Regions from separate parts of the Homo sapiens genome. Here region 2 is linked to region 1. Evidence: fine-mapped expression QTL. A gene starts in region 1. The other region holds a variant in brackets. All regions are shown on one strand. Distances are between the middles of the regions.

Region 1 (2,500 bases):
GGCCTCCAGCTCCCCAATTCTGGGACCCAGCTGGGCAGCTGGAAAGGGTGGAGTCTGGCCCTTGAATGGACGGCCAAGCCCGAGGCCACCGCCAGACTGTGAGCTCAGTACCCAGACAGATCTCTCTGAAGAGTGTGGGTTCACACCCTTGATGTTATTGGTTCTTTAACAGCCTGTCACAACCCAGGACCCATATTATCACCCTCACAGCACACAAGAAGAAACTGAGGCCCAAAGTGGACCCCTCCCCGACCAAGGTCATCCAGGGGATCTGGGATAGAGCTGGGATTGAACTCAGGTCTCCCTGGTCCCTTGACCCTGGCACTTTCCACTGCCCCATCATCTTTCCTCTTAACTCTTTCCTCCCTACAACTAGGAAGCCCCTGAAGTCTCTCCAATAAACGTGGGCCCCTATGACAAGGCCCAACAATCATCCTCCAATATGGGGGCTGCCAAGATGCCCACCTTTGCTTCCCCTGTCACATTCCCTCCCCACATCTTCAAGCCAACCACCTGGACCTGCCCTGTCTCTGGTAGCGGCTCCCGGGACTGGGCAGCGCCTTCTGCACAGAGTGGCTTTGGAGTGGAGCCAGCGCTCCCGGCATGGGCGGCAGAGGCTGGCAGGTGGGGTGGGGTTTCCCCTCCGCTGGCCTCCTCGGGGCGGCAGGCCCATCCCCACACCCACTGCTCAGCACCAGCCCCTGCCAGCGACGCTTCCCGCCGCGCACTCCCTGGAGGGACACCGCTAGCCGCCCAGCCCAGCTCTCCAGGGGTTAAAAATGCAGCATCCCAAACAAGGGTTAAAAATGCAGTCCCGGGGTTGGGCCGGGCGCGGAGGGATGTTGGCCAAACCGCCGGGGCTGCCAGAGCGGCATCCTCCCCCTGGCCTCCGCAGTCCTTGGGGGCCGGAGTGACTCGAGCGGATCCGGCAGCAAGAGAGGCGCGCGCCGCACCTTCCCGGCACCGGCGCCCCCTCCCCACACCCACACCCCCGCGCCCCCCGCAGCCTAGCCCGGGGGATGCAGGCGCCGGCGGGTCCCGGGCGCGGCGGGCGAGCGGCGCTTACCTTTGTGACAGTCATGCAGAAACTCCGCGGCGGAGCGGGGGCGCGGGCGCGGCGTGCGGGGGCGGCGGCGGCGGCCCGGGGCGGCGGCGGAAGGGGGTCCGGCAGCTCCCGGCTCGCTCCCCGCGCCCCGCCGGCGGCTCGGCCGAGCCTGGGGGCTGCGCTCCGGGCGGGCAGCGCGCAGGGACCGCTCGTCGGCGCTCGCCCGCCGCTCGTCGCTGATGTCAGCCCCGAATGTGCATTTATAATAGATGAGCCTCCTTCGCCGCAGGAAGGCGAGGCAGGAAGAAAGGGAGAGAGGGAGAGGGCCCGGGCTGGGGGGCGGGGGGAGGAAGAGGGGCCGGGAACTCGCTACAAAGGAGGAGGCGGAGGGAGGAGGAGGAGGAAGCGCAGCCCGCCAGCGGCCGTGCCCCGAGCCTCCCGCTCGATCGCCGGCCGCCGGGCACCGCTGCTCCCGGAGTCCGGACGGGCGCCCGGGTCCGCGGCCTTAACCCCTTCGGGCCTGCGGACGCCACGCGGCTGGGCGAGGCTGGCTCCCGGCACCTGCCGGCTGGGAGAACGGGCGGCGCCCCGGGCTCTCGGGTGTCCCGCTGGCCCGGGGACGCTGGTGAAGTCACAGGCTGGACGGCCGAGGCGCTGCGCGGGCAAAGAAGGCGGTCGGGTTCGCCCCCTGGAGGCTCGCAAAGTCGGCCCGTGGGCCGTGAGTGTGGCGCGGCGGGCTGGGAGGGGCGTGGCAGCCGCAAGCCCGGGAGCCCTGCCCGCACCCCCACCTCGCGCTGGCCCGGGGCACAGGGTGGCCAGACGGATTTGTGTAAGCACTCTTTCGAATCTAATTCCCGCCGCGATGACTTGCCCGAAGGCCGCCTTAGTGAGTTTTGCAGAGGAGGAAACTGACGATCAGAGTGGGACGGACGTGGGAAGTGACTTAGACCACAGCACAGGACCTGCCTGCCCGAGCCGTTCCTCCCGCTCTTTCCACTCGGCCGCTAGCTCCCTAAGGAACCTCTTGTTATAGAAGCTGCCCTGCCCTAGGACTGTCTACACTACCACTGAGTGCCGCTCTACTGGTGGAGTGATAACACAGGTGCGTCCTGTGTGTTGATCCAATCCTGACTCGGGGCACAGTGTGTCCTGGAGCTGCTGCGGAGATTTGAGGGACAGTCACCTGAAGGTGACCTCGCAAGTCTTGAGAAAGGAGTCTCCCTCCCAAGCACCTGAGCAGAACCGGTTTCCGCAGATACAGAACCGCGGAGAGGGTGGAGGGGAGGAGTTAGCAGAGGTGGAAGCAGAGGGGTTCTCCAAGCAGGACAGCCTGGCAAGCCCGGAAGTGCTGGCTTCCTGCTCCACGGTAATTACCGGTGCAATTCACCTGGACAGCGAAGGCAACGTCATATATGAGCACCTGCTCTGTGGAAAGTGCTGGGGGAACAGAGAGGA
Region 2 (3,010 bases), 45 kb before region 1:
TGGCACCTGAGAAGACGGGGTCCTTCCAGCATACAGCGGCATGCTCGGACCGCCCATTGCAAGGAGGCTCAGGAACAGCCGAGTGTGGTGCAGAGGAAGGGACCCTGGGCATACAGTCACTTGTCCTGCAGTGTCCTTGACTCTGGGCAGGAGTGGTCTTCGACCACTAGCACTGGAGTTAAAAACAGAGACATGGCTGGGTGCAGTGGCTCATGCCTGTAATCTCAGCACTTTGGGAGGCCAAGGTGGGTGTATCATGAGGTCAGGAGTTCGAGACCAGCCTGGCCAACATGGCAAAACCCTATCTTTACTGAAAATACAAAAATTTGCTGGGCGTGGTGGTAGGCACCCGTAATCCCAGCTACTCAGGAGGCTGAGGCAAGAGAATCAGGAGATGGAGGTTGCAGTGAGCCGAGATCATGCCATTGCACTCCAGCCTGGGTGACAGAGCGAGACTCTATCTCAAAGAAAATAAAAAGAAAAGAAAAGAAAAAAAAAAACAGAGATGCCCAGCCCCACCCCAGATCTAGTGAATTATAATCTCTGGGCATGGACCCCAGGAACTCTTGGGTCTGATGTTTAAAAAGCCCCCAAGGTGATTTGAATGCACAACTAATACATCATATATTAGTTTTAGGCCCAAGGGACGGTAGTTCCTAATATCAGTTCCAGGCTGGAGGAAACACTGTGAACAGTACCTTTCACAGACTCATGTGGTGCTGATCACGATTGTTATTTGTGTTGGTAGTCGTGCTCACTGTTGATTCTAATATCATTTTTGTTGTTGTCATTGGTTTTAGAGACATGGTCTCACTGCTGCCCAGGCTGGAGTACAGTGGTGATCATAGCTTACTGCAGCCTCAAACTCCCTGGGCACAAGGGATCCTCCTGCCTCAGCCTCCCGAGCAGCTGGGACTGCAGTCTCACACCACTGCAAGTCTTGTGCCATGGCTGATTCTAATAGCCGACATTGGTAGAGTGGTGCCTCTAGTTTACAGAGCACCCTGACATGGATTACCTGACTTAAGCTGGGCAGCTGGCTTTATTTTTTATCCTCATTTATGGGATGAGGAGACAGAATTACAGGTTAGGTCACCTGCTCAAGACAGCAGGACCCGCCACCCCAGTCCTTTAAGTCTGTCTCAAGTCTCTTTCCATCACCCAGTCTCTAGGGCTGAAAATCCTCCTTCTTGTTGGAGGTTGAGCTGAGGAGGGCTGGGCAGAGAGCAGGAGGAATTAGAAAGGGCATCTTCCCAACACAGCAGTCAAGGAGTCTGTGCGACCCACGCTCAGCTGCAGAGAGAAGCTGCTGTAATCCGTGGTGTCGACAATGGAGGGGCTGGGGCTGCTCAAACACACCCGCCTCCAACCTCATGCTTTGCAAGTGGCACAAACGGGGATTACCCAGCAGCCGTGATCCAGCATGC[G/A]GTAATCCTCACCCAGCCCTGCCTGCCCTCCCACCCGCTGCTGCTGCTCCTGGGAGCAACAGGCTCCTGGATGCTGGGATGGAGACGCCCAACAGGATTTCTGGAGCAAAGGAACCTGAAGCTGCCCTTGGCTTCTCCCACCAGGAGTCAACCGCACTGCCCTGAGATGACTCCTGGTCCTCCAGCCTCTGTTTACATGCAGGGCGGGAGAGGCTGACCTCACTCACTTCTGGCTCTTTGGGATGGGATGGGGTGGGGTGGGGGTGAGGAGGTGGTGTAAACACAGCTGTGGGTGGGCCAGACTGGCTGTCACTCACGTCAGGCTTCCACATGCATGGACACTGCCAGGGCTCCCACATGACCTTCCAATGGTGGTGCAAAGCACCCAGGGTCTGCATCCAGCAGCTTCAGTCAAGGCCCCTGCTCTATTGCTCTGGCGAGTCTCAATGACTTGATTCAAGAGGCAGCATGGGCCCGGGCTTAAAAGAGCCGGGCCGGTTCCTCGCTGTGTGACCCTAAGCAAACAATATCACTTCTCTGCTTCCTCATCTTTTTTTAATTTAAATTTTATTTTCTTTTAATTGAGACAGAGTCTCACTTTGTTGTCCAGGCTGGAGTGCAGTAGCGTGATCTCGGCTCACTGCAACCTCTGCCTCCCAGGTTCAAGTGATTCTCCTGCCTCAGTCTCCAGAGTAGCTGAGATTACAGGTGCCCACCACCACACCCAGCTATGCTTCTCATCTTTAAAAGAGGGGTGATATTAATGGGGTTTACCTCCTAGGGCTGACATGAAGATTAGATTCCCTAAAGTATACAAAGCACCAGACACGTGCTAAGTATCTATAAATATCAGCCATCACCATCACCACCACCAGCCTGTTTCCCAGTCTGTTCAATGAGAATCATTCTAATCTCTTCTGCCTGCCTCACAGGGGTGTTGTGAGTTAAGGTCAACAAAACTGTAAACTCTGAGAGGACAGAGCCTGTGTCTGCCTTGGTCCTCTGCTGCATCCCCAGGATTCAGAATAGTATCTGGTAGTAAGGGTGCTCAGCAAATATCTATGAATGAATGAATGGGGTGTGGGGGTGAATCTTGTGACTCTGAAGGTGCTCCATAGGGCTGAGCTGCTTCTGTTTCTAATGAGTAGTCGGTGAGGTCCAACGATAGGATTTGCTGTGTTGGGAGGTGGTGAGTTCCCCATTGCTGAAGGCAATTAAAGAAACTGGAGGTCACTTAGCACAGATGTCAAGGATGGGACTCATATAGCAGGTTCAGGTCGAACTGAATGACACTGGAGAATCCTTTCCAACTCAGAGTGAATTATAGGCTAGCTCACCCCATACCAAATCCCCATGGCCTTCAACAGCATCAGGCATGTCTTCCCCAGTCAGCTCACGCTCAAGGGAATGTACAACCAACCCTCACATCCTCACACTGCAGTCACACAGTCCACCCAGCTGGGCAGTCTCAAAACATGCCCATGCCCCCACACACTCCATTTTCACATGCAGTCACTCACCCAGCAGCATTGCCACAATTGTCGTGAATGTACCGAGCACCCACTACAAACCTGGCTATGGGT

Alleles and levels. Positions count from the first base shown, and alleles are read on the strand shown. Sizes are in standard deviations (SD) of each study's normalised expression.
In carriers of allele G in region 2, the expression in fibroblasts of the gene that starts at base 1,351 in region 1 tends to be higher than with A alone (small effect, 0.20 SD a copy in GTEx).

Evidence for each region. PIP is the estimated chance that this variant, and not a neighbour inherited with it, causes the effect. A credible set is the group of variants that fine-mapping cannot tell apart.
Region 2: its variant is the best candidate, but not a certain one, in a credible set for the expression of CORO2B in fibroblasts (GTEx, PIP 0.80).

What each region holds. Positions count from the first base shown.
Region 1 is chr15:68,577,844-68,580,343 of GRCh38, reverse strand. It overlaps CORO2B (coronin 2B), which reads right to left and starts at 1,351. Exons shown (of 12, transcript NM_006091.5): 1 at 1,067-1,351. The coding sequence starts at 1,081. RefSeq lists an enhancer at 296-1,163.
Region 2 is chr15:68,622,165-68,625,174 of GRCh38, reverse strand. All of the region lies in intron 1 of CORO2B (coronin 2B), which reads right to left. Among named protein-coding and RNA genes, the nearest start is that of CORO2B, 45 kb to the right of the region's middle. The variant G/A (reference allele first, on the strand shown) is at 1,428.